Linked DNA regions of Homo sapiens. The protein of the gene in region 1 interacts with the protein of each later gene in a pairwise test. Each region holds a gene or a part of one and is shown on either strand. Other genes may lie near its edges.

Region 1 (7,023 bases):
AGATACCAGCTAGTCATAGTTCTAGTTAAAAAAAAAAATGCAGATTTTATTTTTTAAAAGTACTTTCATGTATCTCATTGACATAAGCTGGTCACAGTTTGCTTTATGGCCCTTTCTCTTTAGCTGTATCAGTGACCATCTTTCTAGTAAGTTTACTTGCTACTCGGTACACATCCATTCAAATAACTGATTTTTTTGGTGTGGTTTTCTTCTACTTTTTCCTAGGCTAATATATGCCACGTGCCTTTAAGTAGACCTAATTATTTAGATGTTTAGAATTCTTCTCCCTCTGAAGGCTCCTGTTAGTATAATAAATAAATGTTTTAGTAGGAGTTATGCCCTGAAAGTCCCAAAAGAATCTCCGCTGTTTTTGTCAGAATTATATAATTCCCTTTTATCCCCTTAATATTTCACTAACAAATATGGGTCCCAAATCTTGGTAAAACAAATTCTTGTTTTAGCTTTATAACAGACTGGGAGAGCATGGATAATTTGAATTCTCAAATCAGAAATCATATTTGAAACTCTGTAAACATTGCTTTAAAAATTAAAGGTGATAATAAATAGGACAATTGATCCTTTTTCCTGCATTATTTCTTCTGCCACTCTTGGAAGTACTCAGGAGGAATAAGTGGTCAGAAGATAATTGAGAAGAAGCAGGATGTCTGTCTGTATCATTCACAGTAGTGACAGTTGGGAGGGTTCTGCCATGCAATTTAAAAAAGTCAGTTCACAAATTCTTTAGACTTTGGGACTGAAGGTTATAAAAACCTTCATGTGTTGACTGGTTTGCATGAACATCTCATGCTGGGACTAGCTAAAGACTAAAATTGGTGGCAGTCTTACTTGCCAAATAATTGTGGTCTTTGGAATGTTACCAATATGACATGAAACTGTAAAACTTGTTTGTAAAATAATATGCAGACTGGGTAGCATAATGATGTACGGAAGCCAGGGTTCATAATTTCTCAAATGCATCAAGCTATTTAGCTTAAAGAAGTGGTGTGTTCAAATTTTTTTTTTCTTAATTCATGAGATGACCTAGAGTGCCATCTCATGCATTTAGGCTGACTCTTAGTAGTAATAAATATTTGATGATTATCAAATTGAGCTTAATATTCTTTCAGGTTTATTTCAGTTTTCTATCTTGTAGATTAAATTTGCCTCTTATTCTATATAACTTTATAGGAAAGTCATACTTTTAGAGTTATAGGATCTTATAGCTGAAAGGGACCTTACAGGTTGTTTAAGCTTTAAATAATATGTGATTTAAGATGCTTTGAGGATCACTGGTTAAATGTTAGTAAAGAAAGATAAAGAATTTTCCCTGCTGGATGGCAGTACTCAAAAATTTCCCATTGGGAGGCTGAGGCGGGTGCATCGCTTGAGCTCAGGAGTTGGAGACCAGCCTGGGCAACATGGTGAAACCCCATCTCTACAAAAACTATTTAAAAATAAGCTGGGTGTGGTGGTGTGCGTCTGTCGTCCCAGCTACTTAGGGGGCTGAGGCAGAAGGATTGCTTGAACCTGGGAGGTCGAGGCTGCAGTGAGTCAAGATCACGCCTTGCACTCCATCCTGGGTGACAAAGTGAGACCCTATCTCAAAAAAATAAAGATTTTCTGTAGAGATTTCTATCAATAAAATTATGTGTGAGGCTGTCTTCTTCCTCAGTGTCCATAGTAAATACTGTTTTCATGTCTTTTGTGTTTTCTACACAAAGGACATGCAGGTCCTGCCATCTTTATCACAGATGATTATGCCTTTGCCCCAGAGTCATGCTAGCTGGCTCTTTTTTTTTCCTCCCTATTTGAGTCTTTATTTTCCTCTATCAGTGAGAAGAGTAGAGTAATTGAGTTAAGGTCCCTTTCAGCTCTAACATCCTATGATTCAGTTCAGATCATTTGATAAGAGTAGATATCAGATTTTATGGGATGATATGGAAAGAACAGAAAATTCCTTTAGTAATGCCTCCCTAATTCTATTTATTCAGTGCTTTTTTTTTTTGGTCTTTGGTCAGTAAACTGATAAATGAATAATTGCTTTTTACAAATGAGTTTGATTTTCTTGCTCCTATATTGAGTAAGGCTGGCTCTAATAGATCTTATTTTATTTCAGTTCCTGCTACCACATGAGCCCAAGTCGTCACTCTCCCATGCCTAGGTTATTCAACAGTTTTTGAGTTGAGTTGGTTTTCTTGCTTCAAGGATGCCCCCCTGCCCCCACAAATTTTAGATTTCAATGTGTTATCTCCTTGCCCAAGAATCTCCAGTACTTTCAGTGCCTATAACATAGTATCTAAATTCCACAGCTTAACTTTAAAGAACCTCCCCATAGTACATGTCAAAGCAGGATTCAAGGCTGCATGTCTTTACACTCCCTAATTTGAACTTAGGCTGGTCTTTTCACGGTGTCTTGAGTGATTATATTAGTTCACAACTTCAAACTTAGGCTGTTCTTCTTACCCTCCTGCCCCCAGCTCAGTATCACCATGAAGTTTGCTTTGCTTACCTATGTTGTACTATTTCAAGTCCTGCCTTCTCCAAAAGTTTCTCAAAAATGACTTTTGCCAACATATACCTCCCCTTCAGATTATTAAAGAAAATATTTGTAATCTACCCATAACTCTTACCGTTTCACTTATTTTGGCACCTAGTTATTGACTTGTTTTATGGTTTCTTAATTTGCTTTAATTTTCCAACAAGTAATAGATTGTAAGCTCTTAGAGGGCAGGGGCTATGTTCTGTACTTTTTAAGAAGCCTATAGGTGCTGAGCACAGTTCTTGGCACATCATGGGTGCTCAGTAAAATACTTGTTGAATGAATGAAACAAATACACAGGTATTCTTTCCTGCAGTATAAGCCCATAAGTCAGTCAGTGTTAAATGTGACTGTTTCCAGTGGTTACTTGTGACTTTACGTTGTTACTACTTATTCTTGTTTTTAGTGTCTGCCTCTTTACTCTTACTTTTTCATTTGACAAAAATGGAAGATAAATAAGATGAAATAAATAATTTTTGTTTGGAGAATAAAACTAAAATATTTCCATTTGCAGTCGACCCTCTGTATCCAGAGATTCAAGCAACTGCGATGGAAAATAGTCTTTAAAAAAGCAACAACAAAAAAATACAAATTTTTAAAAATAAAGTATAATAACTTTTATAGCATTTACATTGTGTAAGGTATTATAAGTAATGTAGAGGTAATGTAGAGGAAAAAATAACAAAGTAGGATATAGGCCTTGCAGAGAAATTTAGTGTATTGGTACCTTAGACTTACCTGACTGATTTGACAAATTTATTTGTTGCTGTTCCTTCTGAATTACCCTTCCTTTTGAGTAGCTACAGGATCCATGCCATTGAATTGGGCATTAGCCAGTGACAAAAAAGAGATAGAATTTTTGTTTTTTAGGTCATCTGCTCATAATTCTTGAATCTGGGTAACTTCTGGGTACATGTGGATGACTCAAGCAAGTACTTTTAAAAAATATCTTAACTCAGACCTAATGTCTGTAAATTCTTGACTCAATGTGGTTAGATTTTTGACAAATGTTAATAGTGAGACTACAAATACGTTTATTTTCATTATCTTTAGATAGCAGTTCATTTAAATATGAGCTCATCTATTCACAAACTTAGTGTGGAAAGATCTAAGGAGGACCACATCAGTTGAGAAGAATGACCGGCATCCCCTGCTCCCCTTTTGAAATTCACAAGGCATAATATTTACTAAAGTGATGAGAAGTCTTGCAGAAGCCTTTTACAATTTTTACTTAGTATTTCTGTCTTATTTGACCATCTCCCCCATAAATCTCCCACATAAAGCATTTGTTTTGCTTTGTGTAGCACATTGTATGAAATTAGCATTTTGTGAGAAATGCTGAATTAGGGCCCTTTATTCTTTTAGTTTGCTCTTTAGGAGAAAAAGGCAACATCAAAATAAGTTAGTGTTAACACACATATGCATAAACGAAACAGCTTGTGTAGTGCAATGAATGTATTCATTAGATAGTGGATCAAAAGAGGAAACAAGTCAATAGATTAACCTTTGATTTTTAAATTAGGCTTGTTGAATATCATGATAAGACTAATAGTAGTATTAATAGATAGTAAAGATTTGAGGCTAGGCACGGTGGCTCATGCCTGTAATCTCAGCACTTTGGGAGCCCGAGGTGGATGGATCACTTCAGGTCAGAAGTTTGAGACCAGCCTAACCAACATGGTGAAACCCCATCTCTACTAAAAATACAAAAATTAGCGGGACATGGTGGCGCACACCTGTCATCTCAGCTACTTGGGAGGCTGAGGCAGGAGAATTGCTTGAACCTGGGAGGTGGAGGTCTCAGTGAGCTGAGATCGCGCTATTGCACTCCAGCCTAGGCAACAATAGCAAAACTGTCTCAAAAAAAAAAAAAAAGATTTGGTACATATGCTACACCATAGCAGTGTACTAGGGATTTTGGGGTTTGTTTGTTTGTTTGTTTTGAGACAGAGTGTCTGTCACCCAGGCTGGAGTGCAATGGTGCAATCTCCACTTACTGCAACCTCATCCTCCCAGGTTCTCCAAGTAGCTGGAATCACAGGTGCGTGCCACATGCCTAGGTAATTTTTGTATTTTTAGTAGAGTCAGGGTATCGCCATGTTGGCCAGGCTGGTCTCGAACTCCAAGGCGCAAGTGATTCTCCTGCCTTGGCCTCCTAAAGTGCTGGGATCACAGGCATGAGCCGCCTTGCCCAACCTGTTTTTAACCTAGAGAAATAGGTCCATGTTGTGAAGGTTTATAAGTAGGAATTAATAGATGACATTCCAAGTAGAAATTATCAGTCTCATTCTTATTTTTTTCCTTACCTTTATTTTTCTTTTATTCAGTACACATTTAAGTATCTTGGGTGTGGTACCTAGTGTACAGGTGATGTATGCCCTGCTCTCAAGGAGGTCATTCCTGAGATGCCATTTTGAACTCATTTTTGTCTTCTAACTGCTGATTTGGTTGTTATGGTATTTCCGTACATTTGGAAATCTAGTGGCTATGAATATTTTATACAGGTTGAGTATCTGTAATCTGGAAACCAGAAATGCTCCAAAATCTAAAACTTTGAGTGCCAACATGACACTCGAAATAAATGCTCATTGGAATGTTTCAGATTTTTGAATTAGGGATGCTCAACCAGTAGGTAAAAAGGCAAATATCTGCAAATCTGAAAAAATCCCAGTCTGGTGTCAAGCATTCTGTATAAAGGCCTCTCAACCTGTATTTGCCTTCTTTCGCTGTCTGGTCAAGTACTTGTACATTATGTATCACTTATTTTAAGCAAGTTAGTTGTACTTAGCAGTTATTAGAGATGTGATTGTTGGAAGTGAATGTTCAGTGTTGCAAAGTGAAAATAGCACTCAGGCAAAAGTTTTCTCAGCAAGGCAGTTTACTTCTGTAGAAGGGTGTGTCTTGCAGATGGAGCAATCGTGAGATGGACAAGGGAGGGGAAGAGGTTCTTATTCTTAACACAGCTGGTCCCCACTGTTGTGTCTTTCCCCTACTGGCTAGGGTTGGACCGCACAATCTAAAGTGACCCAGTTGACTAATGTTTGAAATTGAACCCAGCTGTCTAGGCTGGAAGGGAAAGGCTATCCATTATGACACAATGCATGTCTAGGAGAAGGAAGAGTTTATCTGAATAAGGTGGAGGAGAGCTGAGGAAGGTTTTGGTGAGAGCTGTTTTTATAAGTCTTTGCACTAAACTATGAGTACAGGGTATGATACAGCATCCTGTAAGAATGAGCACACCTATAATGGCTGTAAGAGAAGGATTGAGGCTATGATTCCTTTTCATTTACTGAACTACCTCTCTAGCCATGTTGAGAAAGGGTTATCGACTCCAGAATTTTTAGTTAGTTCATTGGATAAAGCGGTAAGTCTTTGTAAGACGCTTATTATGTTCCCAGTGGGGTCAGTGTTGTTTGGGATAAAGGTACAACAGTGAATTTTAATCATAACACAAACATCCCCTATTTTGGCTAATATATCTAGGGCCATTCTGTTTTCTCAGGCCATCTGGCTAGTGGGCCCCAATTGTTCTGTTACCCTTTGACAGCATCCGTGGTGTAATTATAAACCACTGCTGATTATAATAAATGTAATTTATCCAATCTACGTTTTTATTAGTTGTCACTCACAAAAATATTGACTCAAATCCTGCAGCTATTTGATCTCGAGTTTTAAATTTAAGAGCATTCACATCTTGATATCCTGTCTCAGTTGCCAAAGTTTGTTTTAGGTCTTTAACTTCTACAATAGCTACCTTGGTCTTTTCATTAGATGGAGGAGGAGCAATAGTTTTGTTGTGAGAGGTTTTGGAAGAAGGCTTAGGGGAAAGTGTAGGCAGTAGGGGATCAATGCAGCATATTTCAAAGGATCCAATAGGTTCTGTTCCTGAAACCTCAGCCCCCATGCCATAAAACTGGCTTAAAGAAGGGAACCGGCTTATAGAAGGGGAAGAACTTGGAGGGTTTGAGATAATAACCTGTATTGGACAGTACTGGTTTAGCTCACAGCTAGGGGAAGCTGTTTCTTTAGTAAAGTGAATGTATGGCTTTAGGAAATTACAGCTACTGGTTGGGGCAGTTTATCCGTGCTCTTTAGTGGTCTACAGAACGTTTACAACTACTGGTTGGGGCAGTCCATCTGTGCTCTTTATTGGTCTACAGAACATTGGACCAACTGCAGCATAAAAGCTCTGTCTTGGCGGGGTGTGGGGGGCAATACTCCCAGTTGACATTGGGGTCTTTATTGAAACCTTTCCAGACTAAATGATCCCGATTCACTAATATCCAGTCTGAGCAGAGCCAGGAAGGACAGAGGTACTTTTTTGGAGTGGAGAGCTGCTTCGACGTGTCAAGTCTCCACAGGGTATAACAAGGCAAGCATCAAATATAATAGTTTGAGGCGAAATTGACTCGGTTACATTAATAATGAGGTGATCAGCAATAGAGAGGAAAGAAGAAGGAGTAATAGAATAGATGAAAGAGAGT
Region 2 (6,869 bases), on another chromosome or scaffold:
AAAGGTTTCCATGACTGTTAATATTTAATATCTAACTATAAAGGCTATATTTCAGTATTTGATGTACTTATCATTTTGATGTTAAAAAGGAAAGCACCACTCTCAATATAGTAGAAACTTAACTATGAATTTTTCTTGTAAGCCATGTTAGAATATAAGCTTATTGAGGGTAGAGATACCCTTGAATCTGCTGTAGTGAACTAGCCCTCAATAAATACTAGATTTTCATTGGAGTTACTGTGTAATACTTATGTATGCCTTCTGAACTAAGACCCTAAGCTCTGCACTGCCAATTCTGGTTTACCCAACAGGCAGATGAAGCATATGCTTCAGGGCACCAGCAAAACCAGAATGTTAAAAAAAAAAAAAAAACCTTTGCCAAATAATTTAATATCTCAGCAAAACCACTGAAGTAGCCATCATGGGAAAAAAATCAGAACTTTGTTGGACTTTTTTACTGTTATTTTGGGGTTCTGTTATTTTTCTTTTTATTTCTATATAAGGAAGAGGTGGTAGAACATCAAAATCTTTTCAGTGCTTAGGGCCTCCAAAAATCTTAATACAACTCTGTGTACATCTTAAATTATCATAAGTTTTCCTTAGTTGTTCAGCAATAAGCATTTTATTTCATGAAAATTATAGTACGTTTACCCGTACTTTATGTAATCATACAATTTAAGATTCTTCCTCTTTACAATTTATCTCTAAGCAAGAAACCATAATAAATGCTAGAAGGCAATCCTCATAAATTGGACTAATACCAGTTCTCTTTTATCAGCCAACAGTGCTAATATGTCCTCACACCCTCTGGCTGTATGAAAAGATTACACAGTTCCCAGAATAATCAAAAGTAAATTATTATTTATTTCTTACTGGTATAAATGGAATCTTAAATGTTTCTATTTGAAACGTCTACATATATGTAAGAAAAAGAGAGTTAATTTCTTGTTTTGTAGTTCTCATTTGATTCACAATTCAAGTTTAGTTACCTAAGAAAAGAACTCTAGTTTTTTTCTCAACAATTACATTAAAGAAAACACTGCCAGATTCTTCCCAGTTTCAACTTTCCCTCTACCTACCAATCTCTTGCTGGATGATTACCCAGATATTTCTGGTGTGTTTTGTTGCTAATACTCCCAGTGTACTTCAAGAAGGGTACAGATACTGCTTGAGGATCCGCTTGCCAAAGGCCGGTTCTAATTAGACTTGTCATTTTTTGCTTGGTTTCATTTTGACCACTGGGTGCATCATGCAACCGTGTTGGATATTTTTAAGAGTATAAAAATACAGAAAGCAATAGTTAATTAATCTCACATAGCTAAAAGAGGAAGTTAAAAGTACTGGAAATTGGTGTCGGATGATTAAATAAAGGATTAGGAGAGAGACCATTCTAGACACCCTCCCCAACCCCACATCCCCAAAATCCAAGCCACTTCTAAGTAGTGAGAGAACTTCGGCAACCAAGAAATGGCTTTGTTAGAAAACACTTCACACGACTTATTTTAAATTTTGCTTTAAATTTAATTGCTTTTCTCCTTTTTCTCTAATAATAGGACTATTTCGCAGTTTCCAGTCCTTGATTAATTAAGGCTTCAGAGTTCGTTCTTACATATGCCATGTCTTAAGTTTTCATAAAATTCAGTCTACACAAGACTTGCTTTTTGTGAGCACTGTGCTTAGTGGCAGTCCGGATTTTTCCCTCCACCCCCGCGGCCACCCCTGCCCACCGCGCCGTCGGGCATGGATCTGGCAGGTGCGAGGCCGAGGCCAGGGCTCAGCGAAGGACGCCGAGTTTACAGAGCGCGCGCGCCTAGAGGAGGCAGCAGCAGCCGCAGCCTGGCCGCCCGAACTTTGCGAGCCTGGCGGGGGAGCACAGAGGCGGGCCGACCTGCCCCGCTAGCGCTGAGGAACGACTCCCTTTATGCCAGCTCGCTGTCCGCCTTCCCGCAGCGTACGCTGCGGAGCCTCAAAGACCCTGCGGCCCTCCACAACCGTCTTAAATAACAAACCCCTGTCCTCGCCCCCGTAGGAATTGGGGCAGCTGGGGGTTCGCGTCACAGACTCAAGCCCGCCAGCAGAAGGGCAGGCCGGACTTCGCGGGGCCGAACCCCGCTCCAGCTGGGGACAGGCCGCCTAGCCGGCAGGAGGGAGCCGGCGCGAGAGACTTGACGGGAGGAGGTGGAGAGCGGGAGGCGGGAATGAGGGCGCGGGACCGGGCGGGCGGAGCGTGCGAGACTGCGAGCGCGAGCGCCAGCAGGGCGGAGGGCGGGGCGTGGGCGGCGCCCGGCCTTCCCGCTCCCGCGGCGCTGCAACTCTGCCGAGCCTCCTTAAAACTCTGCCGTTAAAATGGGGGCGGGTTTTTCAACTCAAAAAGCGCTCAATTTTTTTCTTTTCAAAAAAAGCTGATGAGGTCGGAAAAAAGGGAGAAGAAACCGGCACCCTCTCTGAGAGGCAACAGAAGCAGCAATTGTTTCAGCGAAAAAAGCAGCAAGGGAGGGAGTGAAGGAAAAAAGCAAAAAAGGGGGCGACACGCAAGTGCCTGTAGGGGTGAAAGGAGCAGGGACCGGCGATCTAGGGGGGGATCAGCTACAAAAGAAACTGTCACTGGGAGCGGTGCGGCCAAGGAGGAAGCAGTGCTGCCAGGCTCTGCTCCAGGGCACAGCTGGCTGGCGGCTGCCCTGTCCGCAGCAAAGGGGCACAGGCCGGGGACCGCGAGAGGTGGCAAAGTGGCACCGGGCGCCGAGGCTGCTGAGCGCTCGCCGAGACGGCGACCGGACTGGCTGCCCCGGAACTGCGGCGACTCTCCCTACTCAGAACTTGGCCTACGTTTCCCAGGACTCTCCCCATCTCCAGAGGCCCCCACAAAACCGGGAAAGGAAGGAAAGGACAGCGGCGGCAGCAGCTCAATGAGTGCCTACAGCAGAAAGCCTGAACGAGCTCGGTCGTAGGCGGGAAGTTCCCGGGGGGGCTGCCCAGTGCAGCCGCAATGCTGCCGCGAGCTGCCCCAGCAGTCCGGGCTCCGTAGACGCTTTCCGCATCACTCTCCTTCCTCGGGCTGCCGGGAGTCCCGGGACCTGGCGGGGCCGGCATGACGGGCTTCTCGGGGGCCCGCCGCACGCCCGGCAGCCTCCGGAGACGCGCGCCGAGCCCGGCTCCCACGGCCTCTGAGGCTCGGCGGGGCTGCGGCTGCCTGGCGGGCGGGCTCCGGAGCTTTCCTGAGCGGCATTAGCCCACGGCTTGGCCCGGACGCGACCAAAGGCTCTTCTGGAGAAGCCCAGAGCACTGGGCAATCGTTACGACCTGTAACTTGAGGGCCACCGAACTGCTACTCCCGTTCGCCTTTGGCGATCATCTTTTAACCCTCCGGAGCACGTCAGCATCCAGCCACCGCGGCGCTCTCCCAGCAGCGGAGGACCCAGGACTATCCCTTCGGCGAGACGGATGGAAACCGAGCCCCCTGGAGGACCTGCCCCTGCAGTTCTGCCTCACACGGCTCAAGTCACCACCGTGAACAAGGGTGGGTGAATGCCTTTTCTTCCCCCTGAATGTCTTTCCTTCCGCGGTATTTTCTGCCCCGATCTATAGTCCCTTGAGTCTCCACACACACTCCTCACAGAGATCTGTAGCGTAGGTACGTGACAGCTCTGCCTACATCTGACGTCCGGAGTCATTAACCAGGAATGTATGTGTGTCTGTGTGTCTCTCTGTGGAGTCGTCAGAATTCTTCATAGGGGTTAAGCTAAAAAAGCGAGGCGAGGAGCCCCTCTCCAATGGCTCAGTTTTGCTGAATAATCACGTGTGAATCGAGGGGCGGGCTTTTGGCAGGCAGATCTTACTAGTATTTACTACCAAGCTCTACTCCAGATTAACCATCCCAGTCCTTCTGTCAGTCTCCGATGCCATCATGCAGCCTGGTTAGGAGCAAAGGAAAGGGGAAAAAGAAAAACGACTAATTCATCTTTTCCTGATCGTCAGGACCCTAAAGAATGGCCGAGCCTTGGGGGAACGAGTTGGCGTCCGCAGCTGCCAGGGGGGACCTAGAGCAACTTACTAGTTTGTTGCAAAATAATGTAAACGTCAATGCACAAAATGGATTTGGAAGGACTGCGCTGCAGGTTGGTATTAAGAGAGGTGGGGAAAACAAGTCAATAATGTTGCCTACGTGACCCGGGTTTCTAGATTTACAGCTTTTAAGCTTTCAGGGACATAAAATTTCACTGTTTTTAAACCTAGTTGGTTGCCATATTTTATATCTTTAAGTGGATGCAACTTCTCAAAATGACGTACTTTGAACAAACTCCTCAAATCCAATAACATCCTTGATATCAAGTGGGGTCCAGATTTGGTCTTAGTTTTTGGAATGTTTTTGTGACGGTGGGGATTTTAAAGTAGTCAGTGTAGGGCCGAGGTTTGTTTGTTTTGTTTTGTTTTTAAAGACAGCTCTGTAAACACATTATTATGATTATTATTTGAAGTAAATACACTGCTATTAGTGGTTTTACGTACTTTGCCCCCAATAATAGACTTTAACGTTAATTTTCTTGACTACTGATGAGGGTGTTTTTCCTTCAAATGCTTCAAGTTTTGACAAACGACCTTTCCTCGTTTGGAATGGGTGGCCTGGGCACCGGGACAGGATGTACATTTTACAGTTAATGTAATACCATCCACTCATTCAGGAGTCGGGAGGAATAAAAAGTTGAATTTTCTAATCAGAGCTCAGCTGCAGTGTCTTTGTCTCTACGGTCATGCCGTGGTGTGCTCTAATTTTCAGTAATTAGATTTACAGGCAACAATTGACACATGTCCAGCTGCCAAGTATTGTACCTGATAATTTTTTTCCTCTTCTGAATGTTATCATGTAACTTAGGTGAAAGGCTTAGAAACAGAAAAATGACAAAATAGTTTAAAATAGTTGCTTTATCAGAGTTCTGATGATATTCTTATGAGCTATTCTTATTTGGAAATGCAACACTTGAAGCTGTTTTTGAAAACCCAGTGGGGAGAGGGTTTTTAGAGGGCTTTGTTTCGGTTACAAGAATTAAAAATTTAAGTGCCAAGAGATATACTATTAACAAACAAAGTCCATACAGTCTGTACATTTTCAGTCAGAATACACTGGCCTTGCAAAAATTTCAGTATTAAGGAAGTTTATGCACAGATACTAAATTATTTATCTTGTTATTGCTGCTACATTAAGTAATGATTTTTTTTCCTTTTTCTACCTAGTAGTTTTGAACAGGTTTAGTGATGATAGCAAAGTAACAAATTTAATATATTGAAAAGTTTCCTTTTGAAAACTCAAAAGATTATATAAACTTCACAAAGAATGAACTACTTAACCCATGTTCATGATAAGATTTTACAGGATTTTTGACGAACAGGAAGACTGGGAAATTAATAATATTCTTTTAAAAAGTTTTGACAAACATTTTTAATACAACTTTGCAATCTTGTTTATATTAAACATACTTATCAAGATACTAACACCCACTTATTGTGGCTTAGTCCTTGTACATATAACGAAACACACACACAGAAACTGGAGTTTCAAGGCTTATTTTCAATATGTATAATCCTGACTCTGAAGTTGTGTCATAAGTCAAGAAATAACTTTCTTCAAAACCGTTTCCAATATTGCTATTATTTTCTGTGAAAAAAGGTGAATTTTCTTCTACAATTATGTTTATTTAACTCAATTTCAAAAGCCTTTTCCACCTTCCTAGTGTACATTTTTCTATCAGGTTAATATCAAAGGCCTTAATCGTATGTTTGCTTTACGAAGATCCAAGGTATCTGTCTCTTATTTTTCTCATTCCAGGTCCTTAAATATGACTAAATCTTTAGGGACAGTTGTGGTCGTATCAATTTTTAATAACCAAAAAGTATGTTTCATTGAAGTTCTTGAAATATAAATTATGTATCACTGTTTACCACTGCTCCAAAGGAAGAGCTAAAAATCAACAGTTTTATCAACAGGGGAGCTTAATATCTTGTCCATCTATGTAGTTTGCATTTACAAAATATTACTCATTTTAAATATATTTTGTTATTTAATGTGTGATTAGATTTTTTTAAACAAACATTTAAAAAAGATAGAACGACTTTGTATTTTCCATTAGCATTTAATTTCATAAACATTGAGTGTCTATTATACAAGATATTTATTATAAATTTAGATTATTATGGATATACCTAGATATAAATAAACCAGTGTAAATTCTGAAAATGTGTGGCATGTTAATGAAAGTAATATTTTTTCACAACTAAATTATATGTATTTTATATTTGCATGCTGTTCTACAAGATACTTTATAAGAGACCACTGTTAGAGTGAAATATATTCAAACAATAGTAGATAATCTTTGTTATGTGAATTATTTGTATGTTGATAGCAAGTGTTAATACCACATTCTGACTTTTAAAATGTTGGCAGTTTACAAATAGCTGTTCCTTAAATGCTTGATAATAACTGAAAAAGGAACTAACACAGGATCACCAGTTGATTATTAAATGAGCTCAAACCACAAGACAAGGCTGTCCGTGTCCCAAAACACCCATTAAATATCTTATTTTTTCTTCTTTTGCTCATTTGAAAATCAGGAGGCTTGTCAGAACTTTGAGAAACAGTATATAATGTAATAGGGTGACTATTTCATTATTTTCAAGAACAGTTGTCCTACAATAATTTCCTACTGTGATACAAGGCATATCAGGAACTTAGTTTTATATAAATTGATATCATAAGCAATTTAGAACACTGTGGCTTATTTAACACCTTAATAATCAGTACTGTTTTGTAACTTAAAATGAAGGATTCTAAACATTGAATACACCTAGTAGCCAATATTAAATAACTTGCAAATAAA
Region 3 (8,019 bases), on another chromosome or scaffold:
TGTAAAATAAAAGGTCTTGAAAAGAATGTCATACATTAAGCAATGGCAGACATTTCCCGTTCCTGAACAATTTCCTTTTTTCCCCCTAATTGCAAATGGTCACGATGTTTTGCTGAGGTATTAATTGACATAGGAACCTACCTAAAAAAATGGGCTGTGTCTCTTTGGCCTCCCCATTAACATCGTTGCTGAATTCTGGGATCTTATACACCTCGTGGTGATAATCTGGCATGAGAAAACAACCAAAAATTAGAATCCTAAGGACCTCAAGATAGGAATAAGCAGTCAAGTCTAGAATCTCATTCTATTTAGTTTGTATACTCTATAATTTATAAATAAACTTTTTGAGAACTGAAATAATCACAGAATTTGTAGTCAATAATAATTCCTAAAACTTTGCTTATTCTGGAGTACGCAAACTTGAAAGATTACTTTGGCTTTAGAAGACAGCTTTGCTTGATCACACCATGTTCACGGTAAATTGTACCCACAGATGCCAATTTTTAGGCTTTTTTTCTTTGAGGTGGCAAGTATGTTTGCCCAATCATAGAGCAGGGGAGGTTTCCAAATTTCTCTTCACAACCCATTTTCACCAGCATATCAACAGTATGCTTTAAAGTTTAGCCAGCACTCTAGTTTTCTCAGTTTACCCAGAAAATCTCAGCCTTTAAGCAGCTTAAAGGCAAGCACACATGAAAAATACTGATTTGTTATTTCAAATGTAGTATGATTTGGATAAGAAAGCAAGATTTTCATCTTTCACACAAGTGACTCTTTCGCATTCAGCTACTGCACTTTATTTAATATGCAAGTTTATTTTCTAAAACTGCACCTGCAGAGAAAGAGAAGAATCAGACCTATAATTAAAAGAAAAAGAAAAAAGGAAAAAGGAAAAACTTGCTACGTCAGTCAAAGTTTCAAATACAGTATTTTACAAGCTTCTCTATGGAGGCTACTGCATTTTTGCTTCTATTTTTGAAAAGCAGGGTCACTAAGGCATGAAAATAGAGGTTCCTCCTTAACACCTAGTCCCCTTTCTCTGGCCTTAGACCTCACAGGACAAAGTCAACAAAACTACTCTCACTTTTAAGATAAAGCAGTTAAGTTCTCTGAGGTCATCAATAAGAAAGCAGCTTACATTCCTGAATGAATCAGATAGCACCAACAGGGCAATCACCCAGACAGAGACTTTTAAAAGTCCAAGTAACTGAGTAATCAACACGGATGTGGAAAAAAAAATTTACTCAGAAAGTGGGAAGAGCCAAGTATTTTGAATGCGTGAAACTATTTCAGGCCTCTTTCATTAAACAGTATCCAAACTAAATTAGGGGAGGCAGATAAGAATGGATCTTCAAAATGCCTATAATCAAAGCATTTTCAGATGAACCAAATCCACATCTTAGCTAGCTTAGCTCAGTTTGAAAAATTCGATTACTTGCAATTGTCCACGATTTTTTCACTAATTTTCATCAGTTTACACGTGACTTCTGCAGGTTGTTGGAGTTTCTACCCTGATGCCAATGCTAGAGAAAACGACAGAGGAAAAGTGGACAGGTTGGGGTTTGGCTTTGACCTCAACTTGATTAAAAGACGACATTTAAACAGAGCGGGTCTAAACTCAATATGAGGACTTGTGACATTACAATGAAAAAAGTCACCTGCCCCTAATTAAAGATGACAATGCATTTTGAGATATATTTTCACGATGGCTCTTGAGTTATCATTTTTTTAAAAAAAAAAGTCAAATCAGGAAGATAAAGACTCTTAACAAGTAACTGAACACAGACAAGACTGTATTCCACTTTCCCCTCCCTGACAAAATACAAACCCTAGAGTGTGGTGTACACCTGTTAATTCGTCAGAAACTAGATGGATTTCTTTTCTTTCTTTTCTTTTTTCTTTTTTTTAAAGGATGCTTATCTGACTGCTATATGATCTAGTCTAAAACACCTTTCCAACCCAAATCAGCTAGCTAGAGATGTTGGATGTCAACAATTCCGCCTTGGGCTTGGACACGGCGTGAGCTTCTTTCTCCTTCTTAAAAAGAACAACAACGGTCATCCTTTTTCCTCCTTCTCTTGGCGGGGGGAAGGGGGAAGACCCCAGAAAACAAAAACAGCAAATCTCAGGTCCGAGGGTCCACGCTCGGCCTGATGGCCAGGCAGGTCCGCGGCCGCCCCAGCCCTGCCCCGGAGGCGCCCCGAGGAGGGCTCGGGCCCCCCGGTGTCATTGTTTGCTAATTTCCTGAGCTGCCCTCCGACTTGTTTACGTTAAATAACATCCCTGCTCCCCCCGCACAACTTTCCCCGCCGCCCGGCGTGTGCGGCCGCGGCCCTGCCTGCCAGCCCGGCGGAGGCACCGGGGGACCGGGAAGGACCGGGGGCTCCGGGAGGGCGCGCCCCCCAGCGTGGACCCCCGCGGGCGGCCGAGGGCGCGGCGCCCGCTGCCTGCCCCCGCCGCCCCGGCGGCCGCTTACCTCGGCTCACCAGTTTGAAGCTCTGGGATTTCCTGCTTCTTTTCCTCTCGGAGAACTCCATGGTGCGGGGAAGGCGGCGGCGGGGGCTGAGGAGGCGGCGGCAGCGGCGGCAGCGGCAGCGGCGGCAGCGGCAGCGGCGGCGCGGGCTCGTGTCACCGCGGCGGAGCCGCCGGGACCAAGGTCCGCGCCTGGAGTCGGCGAGGGGAGGCCGCGGGACGGGAGGAACCACCGCGAGCCGGCTCGGGGCTGCAGGCGCGGGGCCCGGCGGCGTGGGCTCCCGGGCGAAGTTGCCCCCGCGCGGCGCCGCCTCCCGGTGCCCTAGGCGCCCCCGCGGCCCCCGCTCATGCCGGCCCGCGGGTTCCAGACGCCGCCCGCCGCAGCCCAACTTTCCGTTGGGAGCGGGCCGGGCCGGGGCGCGGCGGCGGCGGCGGAGGCGGGGGGCGGCTCGGGGCGGCCGGCCCGCCTGGGCTCAGCCTGCGGTCGCGGCGGCGGCGGCGGCGGCCCCGAAGACGCGGCGGGCGGGCTGCGGGGAGGGCGGCGGCGGGTGCAGAGCCGGCCGGGGCGCTGACCGCCCCCGCGGGAGGAGGGGCGCCGGCGGAGGGGGCGGTGCCGCTGGGACCCCAGGGCCACCTGCTGGCGGAGCCCGGCCGCCGCCATCCCCGGGGGCCGCCGCCGGCCTGGCCGCGCGGCGCCCCGAGGAGGCGCGGAGGCCGCGGCGCAGCGCCCTGGCCCGGGCCCGGCCGGCCTGCCTGCCCCCGGGGACGACGCCGCCGCCCGGGCCTCCGCTCGCAGACCCCGCTCGCTGGCCTCCCTCCGCCGCTTGCTGGGCCGAGCTAACTCCGTGCACCTCGCCGTGGGGGCGCGGACCGCCCCGACAACCACCTCCCCGCCCTCACATCCCGGGCGCCCCGGGGCCCGACGCGCTGATTTTAAGCAAGTTTTAGGGGGAAAAAACTTACCCATTTGCGCTCTCTCTAGAAGGACAGAGAGGAGGTTTTAGAATATTGTGGAGAAGAATATAGTAGAGAGCTCCCATTCCCTAACCCAGGCTGGGCGGATTGTGGAAAGAGCCGAGTCACATTCAAGGAGAGCACTTGGAATGGGGGGCTTGGTGGCCCTGGGGACTCTCAGGAGGCCATGGTCAAGGCAGGTGCAGGGCACTATGCTTCTCCACGTCATATGTCGGAATCATGGACCCAAACACAAAGCGCTTAGTAGTTATGTGTAATATTCTTTTCGGGGGATCAGAGAGCGCACTTCAGGCACCATTTCTTTCTCACATCTTTCGAGTGGGCCAGGAAAAGAATTTCACACTACCTGGGAATGGTAGGACAGGAACATGACGGGACATGCGTGAAAGTATCTGCCAAACCCAACCAGGAAGAGGGTAAAGAGTCGGGGGATGGGGGGGCTACCTCTCCGGCACGGGACAAAGGCCAGTGGCCCCAAAAGAGTAGAGAGGAAAAAGGGGAGGTTGACAAATGTGATGAGTGTCACGTGGGTCTCACCCAAATGAGGCAGCCGCTGAGGAACCGCTCTTATTTCAGGGACACAGAGTAGGACAACTGCCGAGGAAGGGGGACATTGAGGCAGCTTGCAGAAACACACATGGAGAAACAGAACCAAAGAGCAGGGTAACCAGCAAACCAGGCAGTGGAGGCAGGGATGGGTACCCATCCCGAGATCTTGGGTGATACCAAAGGCGGCACATCCGGAAGGCTGGTTATACCTAGCGTGGAGGGGAGAGGGAGAACTGTTTCTTCCGTTCAATAAAGCAAACCCTTCAACAAGAGGTTCTTAACCTTTTTTAGTCACTGTTTCCTTTGAGATTGTGTTCAAAGCTCAAGGGCCCTTTTTCCCAGAAAATATGTATGGGACATATAAAATTTAGTATAGATTTATTGGAGTTCTTAGACGCGCTTTGCTGCTCTCAGAAAATTAGTGGTAACAGTGATTAAAGCAACTACCCTATTTGGGTTTCTTCCTTCCCTGCCACCCCTTTCTTTAAAATCAGGCATTAAAATCTGAAGATGTTTTGGATTTTTTTTTATTTTTTATTTTTTGAGACAGAGTCTCATTCTGTCGCCCAGGATGGAGTGCAGTGGTGCGATCTCAGCTTACTGCAACCTCCACCTCCCGGGTTCAAGCGATTTTCCTGCCTCAGCCTCCCAAGTAGCTAGGATTACAGGCATGGGCCACCACGCCCAGCTAATTTTTTGTATTTTAGTAGAGATGGGGTTTCGCCATGTTGGCCAGGCTGGTTTCAAACTCCTGACCTCAAGTGATCAGCCCGCCTAGGCCTCCCAAAGTGCTGGGATTACAGGCGTGAACCACCACGTCCGGCTGTTTTGGATGTTTTTAAAGAAACAAAGCATGCAATTTTGTTCCCCAGGCTGGGATCCATTCTTTCTTTATGTAATGCCTTTTAAAATGTTATTCTCAAAGCCGTAAGGCTAAGTTCTACACTGACTGAGGAACTTCCCGGATCGTTCATGCTTTGGAGCATATAATGAGATTTTATTATGCTTAAACTATGACGAACCCAGTGAAGGTGTCATCCCAAGAAGTAAATCCCTGGAGAAGGTATTAACAACTTAGCATTTTCAGTTCAAGTGGGAATGCAAATTCCATTTACTGAAGAGAATATTTTTGATATAGTTAAGAATAAAATATTTGAGTAAGAATATTTTTAAATAGTAGTCATTTCTCCTTGACCCTTTTTAACCTGGCTTTCCAAAGTTGGTCTATGAGTGAGTTGGCCTGCAGAGGACACAGGCTACGCTTGTCTTATTAGCTTTTAGAGAAAATAAATGTCTGTTTACTCTGCATTTTGTGCAAATCACTATGCTCTTATCTAACAAAAATGTATATATCACATTTAGTATTAAAATTAATAATAATGTTTAATTAAAATGAGGTTGCTTGGGGCCAGGTGTAGTGGCTCACACCTGTAATCCCAACATTTTGGGATACAGAAGGATTGCTTAAGGCCAGAAATTCAAGACCAACCTGGATAACATCCTGAGACCCGGTCTCTACCAAAAAATTAAAATATAAAATAAAACATAAAGTGAGATTGCTTTAAGTAGCAGGTATCCATATAGTAGCTGATCCTTATCCTTGGGGAGTATGTCCAAGACCTTCAGTGGATGTCTGAACCTGAGGATAGTACCGAACCCCGTATATACTATGTTACCATCAAACCCCATATATACCGTGTTTTTTATTGTTTTATGTTTTCTAATAACCAAGCCAACAAGTGACTAACGAGCAGATAGTGCAGACAATGTGAATACGCTAGGCTAAAGAATGATTCCTATTCTGGGCCGGAAGGAGCAGGTTGGCTAAAGATTTCATCATGCCACTCAAAATGGGGCACAATTTTAAATTGATGCATTGTTTATTTCTGGAAGTTTCCATTCAATATTTGCAGGCCATAGGTGACTGCAGGTAACTGAAATCATGGATAAAGGGGGACTACTGTATTAGCCTGTTCGGGCTATCTTAACAAATACCACATACTGGGTGACTTAACAGCAGCTTATTTTCTTACCATTCTAAAGGCTGCAAGTTTCAGATCTAGGTCTGGCAGGGTCAGTTTCTGGCGAGGGCCCTTTTCTTAGCTTGCACACCACTACACTTACATGGCATAGGAAGAGAGCTGTCTTTCTCTCCCTCTTCTTGTAAGGCCACCAATCTTATCAAATTAGGGCTCCGCCTTTATGATCTCTTTTAACCTTAATTACCTTCTATTAAAGGTTCAATCTCCAGATACAGTCACGTTAGGAGTCAGGGATTCAACATATGAGTTTGTGGGGGACACAAATCAGTCTGTAGCCATCTTGTTTTCACTCAAATATAATGTCTGTATTGAGGGGTCCTGGAAAGTTTTCTAGGGGATCTACTGAAGTCATTTCTTTACCCCATTCTTTCCAATTTTAGTATATGTGCTGCCGAAGCTAGCACTCTTTGCCTCATTCTTAAAGGCCCCCTAAAGTTCCAGAACCACAGGTTTATGTGTTACTGGAGATCAGAGATAATTGGTCAAATATTCAATGACATCACGCAGGGCAAACATTTTATTATATGGCCATGCTTAAACCCACTTGATTATAAAGATTACATGTTGGTTTCAATCTTTGACAAAGCCAGATAATTTGGCCAGAAAACCTGAAGTAACCTTACCGCTAATACTTGAAATGCTCTTCCTGAAAACTGTCCTGAGAGGAATAGCATTATGAAAAGTTTCATCTTTATTTAGAGCTCTGCTGTCGAATAGAAATACAATGCAAGCTATGTATGTAATTTAAAATGTCCTATTAGCCACACTGAAAAAAGTAAAAATAAACAGATGAAATTCATTTTAATAATTTATCTTATTTAACTGAATACATTAAAATATTATCATTTTGACACATAATATGAGAATATTATTATTGAGATAGTTTATATGCTTTTTGTTATACAAAGTTTTGAAATTGGTATGCATCTTACCCTTAGATTACAAATCAATTCAAACTAGCCAAATTTCAAATTGTCCATAGTCACATGTAGTTACAGGTGACCATACTGGGCAGCTCAGATTTAGAAGGAATGTATGATTTGAACCATGCTATGTACGTAGATGTAGTATGTCTACAACTTGATTACTGTTTAACTGTTTTATTAATACACCTCAGAAAGAAGATGAGCAGAATGGAATTATTGGGCTTCAGGCTTTTTATAATCTTTGATTGGATTTTCTGGAATTGAATATCCTGTCATTAAATAGATTCTGGGAATCCTTCAGGAAGATTTAATATGTATAAATATCCACTTTTCAACATTAGGACAATCACCCATCAGACGGTCATGGAAGGAATAGATGCCCTCCTTTTAGCTGCCGTTTCCCAAGTGTTGCTGGCCTAATGCAGTTTCTACACCCGTTTACTTCATTGGTTTTGGTGATTGTAATTTAAGAGAAAGGAGGCAGTATTTATAAGATATTTCATAAGTGAAAATGAGAGTTGGAATGTTCCACAAATAATATTACCTTATATTTTATATGGGGCTTCTTTTACAGCTCAAGCATAGGTATGCATTATCTAACTCTTAATAGTTCTATGAGATTGGTATATATTAATATTCCAATTTTGCAAATGAGAAAAATCCATTCTGAAGACCATTTTTTAGTGAAATTAGAATGGTCTGCTGTTTCCTGACTCTTAAATATGATGCATGAACCTTATTTTTTTTTACTTGGTTCTTTAAAATACTTTTTTTTTGTTCTTTTTAAGATCTACCTTATATATGATAAGGAACACAAACCTTCAGTGGATATCTCAATTAATTTGTTTTACTTATATATACATCCATGTATCCCCCACCCTGATGAAGATTTAGAACTTTTCCAGCACACCAGTAGGCTTCCCTGAGGCCCCTCAAAGTAGATAGCCCCCCAAGGAAACCACACTTCTAACCTCTATCACAATAGCTTGGGTTTGCCTGCTCTTAAACCTCATATAAGTGGTGTCATAGAGTGTGTGCTATTTTTTGTCTGACTT
Region 4 (7,508 bases), on another chromosome or scaffold:
CAGTGAGCAGAGATCGCACCACTGCTCTCCAGCCTGGGCAACAGTGAGACTGTCTCAAAAAAAAAAAAACAAATAATAAAGAGTAAATAGTGGTGATCTCTGGGTGACAGGAATGTGTTGCCATTTTTTCCCCTGTATTTTCTTTTTTTTTTTTTTTTCAGACAGAGTCTCACTCTGTCACCCAGGCTGGAGTGCAGTGGTGTGATCTCGGCTCACTGCAAGCTCCGCCTCCCAGGTTCACGCCATTCTCCTGCCTCAGCCTCCCGAGTAGCTGGGACTACAGGTGCCCGCTACCACGCCTGGCTAATTTTTTGTATTTTTAGTATAGATGGGGTTTCATCGTGTTAGCCAGGATGGTCTCGATCTCCTGACCTTGTGATCTGCCCACCTCAGCCTCACAAAATGCTGGGATTACAGGCGTGAGCCACCGCACCCAGCCTTTCCTAACTTTCTGAAATGCACATATACTACTTTTGTAATGATGTTAGTTTTACTATTTTTAAAAAGATAATTTTCAGAGAAAGCAGATGCTGGGCTATAGAAATAATTTCAATACAAACAGGTTGTAGTTGTTATTACTGGTACCATGTTAAAGACAGAAATGGAAAAACTTGCAAAAGATTGTCGTGGAAGGATTTTTAAATTTTGATGATTAAAACATGTTACTTGAACATATAGTGGGTATACAGTCAAGCATTTGTGATTTTTTACAAAATTGAGTTAGGGATATAATGTGGTCTAATTTTTCAATCTTGGTCTATCTTGGACTTTGTATGTCATCTCTTTATTTTCAGGAAGATAAAGCTTTCAAGCTTCCTCCTTCTTTGTCCACTTGTTTATAGTTTTGATGGCTCTTAGGAAAGATAGTCTAGGGAAGATTTTTTCCTCTCCCATTTCAGGTATATCCCTCTCTCTCTGGTAATCCACTGAGTTAATACCACATGCTTCATTTCAAAGCATTGGAAACTGTGTTTATTTCTTTGTAATTATGGCAACAGGATTTAAAGAAGAGAGCCACGGGAGTCTCTTGTTCTTGGTGAAAGAGCCACAAATCCAGATAAGGAGAATCTCAGACCACAATGAGACAGTGCTGATGTAAGAATAGCATTAAATAGGCGGGGCGCGGTGGCTCACGCTTGTAATCCCAGCACTTTGGGAAGCCGAGGTGGATCATGAGGTCACGAGATCGAGACCATCCTGGCCAACATGATGAAACCCCATCTCTACTAAAAATACAAAAAAAAAAAATTAGCCGGACGTGGTGGCGGGCACCTGTAGTCCCAGCTACTCAGGAGGCTTAGGCAGGAGAATCATTTGAACCCCGGAGGCAGAGGTTGCAGTGAGTCAGGATTGTGCCACTGCACCCCAGTCTGGCTACAGAGTGAGACTGTCTCAAAAAAAAAAAAAAAAAAGAGATAAGCACAAACCAAGAAGGGAAAGATGACTACGTGAACACCACAGTGACTCAACCATGAACATCTCCTTTACTTACACCTTCATATACAGGCTATTAGCTCTTCTTCAACATATATGCTTTGGACTGGTCTAGCCTGTAGGCAAGTTTGTTCTTACCATTCTTCCACCTGTCCTGGAAGCACCTTTACTGGGACTTCACAGCTACCTCTTTTGTGATCCATCCCCACAAGGTCTAGCTCTTAGTTAGCTGTCAAGAGATATCATTTGTGGCAGATACTGCTAGTTTCTTATCTAACTTATTTTCCACATCTCTTTTTTTCATTTGTAACAAAGCCCTAATTTTGTGCAGGTAGATTATCAAGGGAGGCTAGGTCCTTCCCCTAGTGACAGGGGCTGAAGCATGATGGGCCCCAAACAATTATTTATTCTTGGTAATAACTAGTTTAGGATGGGTACATGACACAATACATGTCTGTATATTTTACCTGGATTCTATTGTCAACGTTACCAACATGCTTAGGGTGGCAGAGAAGCACTGGGACCTTGATGTTGTCACTGGGCCACCGAATTAACCAACCTGTAACTGCTCTTTGAACATCCTTTCGGTGGGTTTTCTGTTACTTGTAGCTGAAACTATCCTATCAGATATTCCACAAAATCACATTACCTAAGTTGTCAAATCTCCTAATATTGTTTTAATAACCATGCAGCCATTCATTAAGCTTTTAGATACAGGAATGTGCCTGGCACTGGAATAAGGAAATATGTTGAGACTTTTCAGGCTTTTCTATCAAGGTACCTATCATTTTCGTCTTTTTTTTTCCCCAAACACCTTTATAAACTGGCAATTTCTTTCACTTACATTATCTTATAATCTTTGAAATTACCCTCTGAGTTAGCCCAGAGAGGCACTCTGAGCTGTTTGCAGCTGAGGAAAGCAAAGTTGTAAACTGGCCAAGATTACCAACCAATCAGTGGCAGAGCTTGGGGAGGAGCTCAATTTTCCAATTCCAAATGCCTACACCAGGGCACTCCCTCCTCCCCCAGCACACAATAGGAAATGACTGGCTCTAGGGTAGGCTGCATGTGAGGTATCCGGGGGCGAACAACGTCCTGCGACGCTAACCTATGGCTCTATTCTCGCGTGGGATCCTGTGACTAGGAAGCTGAAGCAGCTCGCTTAGGCTGCAGCTGCGGGTACAATACGTAATGCCTCTATAACACTTTGAGTCAGAGTCCAGCAACCTGGCCTACACCGATGTGAACGTTGTGAACGTACACAAAGATACTCCTTCATGTTCCACGGCCCCACCATCCGCTCAAGACACAAAGGACAGCTCAAGCCCAGGCTAGGCCCGAACCCCCGCCCTCTCAATCACCTTGCTCTGGCCAGACCGAAATTTCAGGCCTACAGGGCACTGTTGGCCGAACCCACATTTTGTTACCGATTTTCTTTCGAGTTCCGGTGTCTCCCAGTCTTCTTTCTGTCCTTCTTCTCGGAAACATTACGTCCCCCTGGGGTCACCCTAAGACTCTACTTCAGCAGGCAAACAGGCCCGGAGCTCACGGAGGAGACCCCGCCAGCGGAAGCGGAAATGGTTGCTTAGAGAAAAGGAGGAAAACTACCTCTCGCAGCTGCCCAGTGGCTACAGGTCCTCGGTTAAGGTGTTCAATTGGTCAACACAAAAGAAGGACTTCCCCTTCGGGAGAACTTCGACCAATCAAAGGGCAGGATGGCGGAGAGGGCTGAGGGCGGGTCGCTTCCGGCGGCTTTTCCCGCAGCTCCTGCGTAAAGGAGCATGAGAGCGTGGGAGTTTTGCAGTGGCCGTGGCGTTCTTCGTCGCGTCTCGGTCGGGCGTCGCTTTCTGCAGCTCCTGTCAGGGAGCGCGAGGCCTGTTATTAACCGCGGAGCGGTAAGTGGGCCCCTTTCGAGGCCGGGCCAAGAGGAGGAGCAGTCGGCGTAGGTTTTTAAGGGGGGGTTCGGAGGGAATCGAGGGAGGCTAGGGGTAGTGGAGGAACTTGGCAGCGGAATTGGTCCCTTTAAGAACTGTTCTCTCCCCCCGCAGCTTTGTCACGAAGTCCCTGTGGCGTCTTGAAGAAGGCATTCCCCACCCGCCAAATGGCGTCCATGCCCCCGACGCCCGAGGCCCAGGTGAGTCGAGGTACCTTTTTCGTCCAAGTTTATTGCTGCTTTCGGTCTCTGCCTGACCCCCTCCTTTGGAGGAGAGTTGGGCATGCCTGTTGTGGTAGGAGTGCTCCTGAGCCCCAAATAGCCCTTTGACCAAGTGTTCTTCGTTCCAAGACCACACACATAATGGTTTACCAACTTCCTTCTTTCAGAACTACCAACTGGGAGCAGGGACCTGTGGAGGAATCTCTGAGAGAGTTTCTCAATGTCTTATCTGTTTGTTTTGTTTTGTTTGGAGATAGGGTCTGGCCTTGTCGCTGGAGTGTTGCTTGTCTGGCTGGAGTGCAGTGCTGATATCATAGCTCCGTCTGGAACTCAGGGAATCCTTACGCCTCAGCCTCTCGAGTATCTGAGAGGCGCGCATACCACAGTGTCTGGCTACTTTTAAAAGTTCTTTTTTTTTTTTTTTTGATACAGAGTCTCGCTCTGTCGCCCAGGCTGGAGTGCAGTGGCGCGATCTCGGCTCACTGCAAGCTCCGCCTCCCGGGTTCATGCCATTCTCCTGCCTCAGCCTCCCGAGTAGATGGGACTACAGGCGCCTGCCGCCACGCCCTGCTAATTTTTTGTATTTTTAGTAGAGACGGGGTTTCACCGTGTTAGCCAGGATGGTCTCAATCTCCTGACCTTGTGATCCGCCCGCCTCGGTCTCCCAAAGTGCTGGAATTACAGGTGTGAGCCACTGCGCCCGGCCTAAAACTTCTTTATGGAGATGGAGTCTTGCTGCTTTGCCAAGGAACTCCTGGCCTTCAGCTATCCTCCCACCTCGGCTCCCCAAAGTGCTAGGATTAAAAGTGACTTTCTGGAATGGTTCCCAAAATTACAGATTTGGTACTTCTCCAATTTGAATGAATTTTTAAATTAAGCACATTTCTAGACTCCACACTCGTTGAGTAATAATAAATCCCAAGTGATTAATTTATCACACCGTTAGAGAAGGTGGGGTAGGCCTGGATGAAGTGCTGGAGTGAGCTTAGCAATGAGTGTCATGGGGACGAGAGGAAATAGCAAAGGGAAGGATGTTGGGAGAATCCTGTAACCTTTATCTCTTTATGATTCTTCCTGGGCTGCCCAACTTTCTCCTTTTCTTTTCTTTTTTTTTTTTTTTTTGAGACAGTCTCGCTGCGACGCCTAGGCTGGAGTGCAATGGCGCGATCTCGGCTCACTGCAATCTCTGCCTCCTGGATTCAAACGATTCTCCTGGCCCAGCCTCCCAAGTAGCTGGGACTACAGGCGCATGCCACCACATCTGGCTAATTTCATTTTATTTTAATTTATTTTTTGAGACAGAGTTTTTTTTGTTGTTGTTTTGTTTTTGTTTTTGTTTTTGAGATGGAGTGTCGCTCTGTTGCCCAGGCTGGAGTGCAGTGGCACGATCTCAGCTCACTGCAAGCTCTGCTTGAGACGGAGTTTTACTCTTGTTGCCCAGGCTGGAGTGCAATGGTGCAATCTCGGCTTACTGCAACCTCTTTCTCCTAGGTTCAAATGATTCTCCTGCCTCAGCCTCCCAAGTAGCTGGGATTATAGGCATGCGCCACCACACCTGGCTAATTTTTTGTATTTAGTGCAGACAGAATTTCACCATGTTGGTCAGGCTGGTCTTGAACTCCTGACCTCAGGTGATCCACTCGCCTCCACCTTCCAAAGTGCTGGGGTTACAGGCGTGAGCCACTGTGCCCAGCCTTAATTTTTGTAATTTTAGTAGAGACAGGGTTTCACCATATTGGCCAGGCTGGTCTCGAACACCTGACCTCAAGTCATCTGCATCCCCCTCAGACTCCCAAAGTGTTGGGATTACAGGCATGAGCCACCACACCCGGCCCCAAACCTCTCCTTTTCTTAGAGCATCCTCACTTAATGGTTGCCTCCCTAAGAGCCATTCCCTCATCTTTTCTCTTTCAAGATAGACAATAATTCTCACAGTCCACCGTCCTTGTACCACTGCCTAAAAATGTATGTCCATGTTTACTCTCTTCTTCCCAACCCTCACCCCACCCCTTAGAACCCATTTGCCCTACTTCTGCGCTCAAGAACCTTTTACACCGAGCCTTTTATCCCGTGCATCTGATGTTTCTAGCTCTTTTCATCCTTCCTAGGTTAAGTGAGGGGCTGACCCTCCACCCTCTTGTGCTGACACAGGCTCTTGTGTTTCAGGGACCAATACTCTTTGAGGATCTGGCTGTGTATTTTTCTCAAGAGGAGTGCGTGACTCTGCACCCTGCCCAGAGGTCCCTCAGCAAAGATGGTACAAAAGAGTCTTTGGAGGATGCGGCTTTGATGGGTAAGGCAATTGTTTTTCCTGCATCTGGAACTTTTGTCAATTCTAGGAGGAGAACTTCATGCTTTATCCAGATGTTGGTATGGTGGAGTGGGACCTGTCCCTCAGTAATTTATGTGGAGGTGATAATTGTGTGAGAGAAAAAGTTTTAAAATATGAGATGATTTTTTTTTTTTGAGACAGACTCTCGCTCTGTTGCCCAGGCTGGAGTGCAGTGGCACGATCTCTGCTCACTGCAAACCGCGCCTCCCAGGTTCACGCCATTCTCCTGCCTCAGCCTCCCGAGTAGCTGGGACTACAGCCGCCTGCCACCATGCCCAGCTAATTTTTTGTATTTTTAGTAGAGACAGGGTTTCACCGTGTTAGCCAGGATGGTCTCAATCTCCTGACCTTGTGATCACCCGCCTCGGCCTCCCAAAGTGCTGGGATTACAGGCATGAGCCACTGAGCCCGGCCGAGATGATCTCTTAAAGACAAAAATTCAGTCTAGTACAGTGCCTGTGGTTTAGTACAAGAGATGGCAGTATTTGGTAATCTTTCACAAACATTTGTTGCAGTTTACAATTTTACTTGGGAAATCCCATTAGTATCGATCACTATCATTTGCTAAAGACTGGAGATTGATTTACTCTTAAGGGGTGCTATGCCTTACTCACCTAAGGGGAACCATACACAGATGGACTCCTGTGCCTGACTAGATTTTATTTCTGACTAGGATTGAGTATCTAAACTATCTATTCTAAGTAGTTATTCTAAATAGTTTGGAATAGTTGAGATACTCAATCCTAGTCAGAAAAAAATAACTAGAGTAACTAGTTATTCTGAATAACTCATATTTTGTTTCTTCCACTTCTCTCTTCATCATGTTCATGTTGTCTTCTGTCTGCGTAAATGTATGGAGTATATTTATAATGGTTATTTAAACTTTTTTTTCTTGCTAGTTTTAACATTGATGTCATTTCTGGGTCTGTTTCTATTGATTGATTTGTCTTCTAGTTATGGGTTATATTTTCTATATTTTCTTTACTTCCTGGGTAAATTTTGGTCGGATGTTAGATTAAGAATTTTATGTTGTTGGACCCGGGATTTCGTTGTATTTTTAAAAATATTTTGGACTTTGTTGTGGGAGGCAGTTAAGTTACTTGGAGTCAGTTTGACTGTTTCAAGGTGTGCTTTTTTTTTTTGCTTTGTTAGGATAGGTTCAGATCAACCTTTCTGCTAGGACTTATTTGAGTTACTGCTAAGGCAGTTTTTTTCTGTGGACGTTGCTGCTCAATGTCTTATGTCTTTCCACTTTGGCTGGAGGCAACATGAACTGGTTATTGCTCTGTTATTCCTTTTAGGTGGTTCTTTCCACGGCATTGGGTAGTTTCTTCATGCACTTGTAGATTACTACTCAGCCAAAGTTGTGGGGTTATTTTTTTTTTGATACAGTATCTTGATCTGTCACCCAGGCTGGAGTGCAGTGGCACAATCACGGCTCACTGCAGCCCTGACCTCCCAGGCTCAAGCAGTCCTCCCACCTCAGCCTCCCAAGTAGCTGGGACTACAGGCATGCACTACCATGCTTGTCTTTTTTTGTTGTTTTTTTTTTGTAGGGATGGGGCTTTGCCATGTTGCCCAGGCTGG

The links.
Region 2: the proteins of PRPF40A (region 1) and CDKN2C interact in binary tests that used the Homo sapiens proteins (3 or more experiments, as listed by UniProt).
Region 3: the proteins of PRPF40A (region 1) and BEND7 interact in binary tests that used the Homo sapiens proteins (3 or more experiments, as listed by UniProt).
Region 4: the proteins of PRPF40A (region 1) and NAA60 interact in binary tests that used the Homo sapiens proteins (3 or more experiments, as listed by UniProt).

What each region holds. Positions count from the first base shown.
Region 1 is NC_000002.12:152,707,461-152,714,483, reverse strand, and holds part of PRPF40A (pre-mRNA-processing factor 40 homolog A), read left to right. Parts: intron 1-2,116; exon of another isoform or gene 2,117-2,180; intron 2,181-7,023.
Region 2 is NC_000001.11:50,966,383-50,973,251, forward strand, and holds the start of CDKN2C (cyclin-dependent kinase 4 inhibitor C), read left to right. Parts: upstream 1-3,862; 5' UTR 3,863-3,986; coding exon 3,987-4,115; intron 4,116-6,869. UniProt on the Homo sapiens protein: Interacts strongly with CDK6, weakly with CDK4. Inhibits cell growth and proliferation with a correlated dependence on endogenous retinoblastoma protein RB.
Region 3 is NC_000010.11:13,525,997-13,534,015, forward strand, and holds the start of BEND7 (BEN domain-containing protein 7), read right to left. Parts: upstream 3,019-8,019; 5' UTR 2,538-3,018; coding exon 2,477-2,537; intron 2,187-2,476; exon of another isoform or gene 1,829-2,186; intron 1,808-1,828; exon of another isoform or gene 1,436-1,807; intron 226-1,435; coding exon 142-225; intron 1-141.
Region 4 is NC_000016.10:3,439,181-3,446,688, reverse strand, and holds the start of NAA60 (N-alpha-acetyltransferase 60), read right to left. Parts: upstream 3,010-7,508; 5' UTR 2,923-3,009; coding exon of another isoform or gene 2,862-2,922; 5' UTR 2,852-2,861; intron 1-2,851. Other genes in the region: ZNF597 (zinc finger protein 597), read left to right, coding at 3,536-3,568, 5,756-5,882. UniProt on the Homo sapiens protein: N-alpha-acetyltransferase that specifically mediates the acetylation of N-terminal residues of the transmembrane proteins, with a strong preference for N-termini facing the cytosol.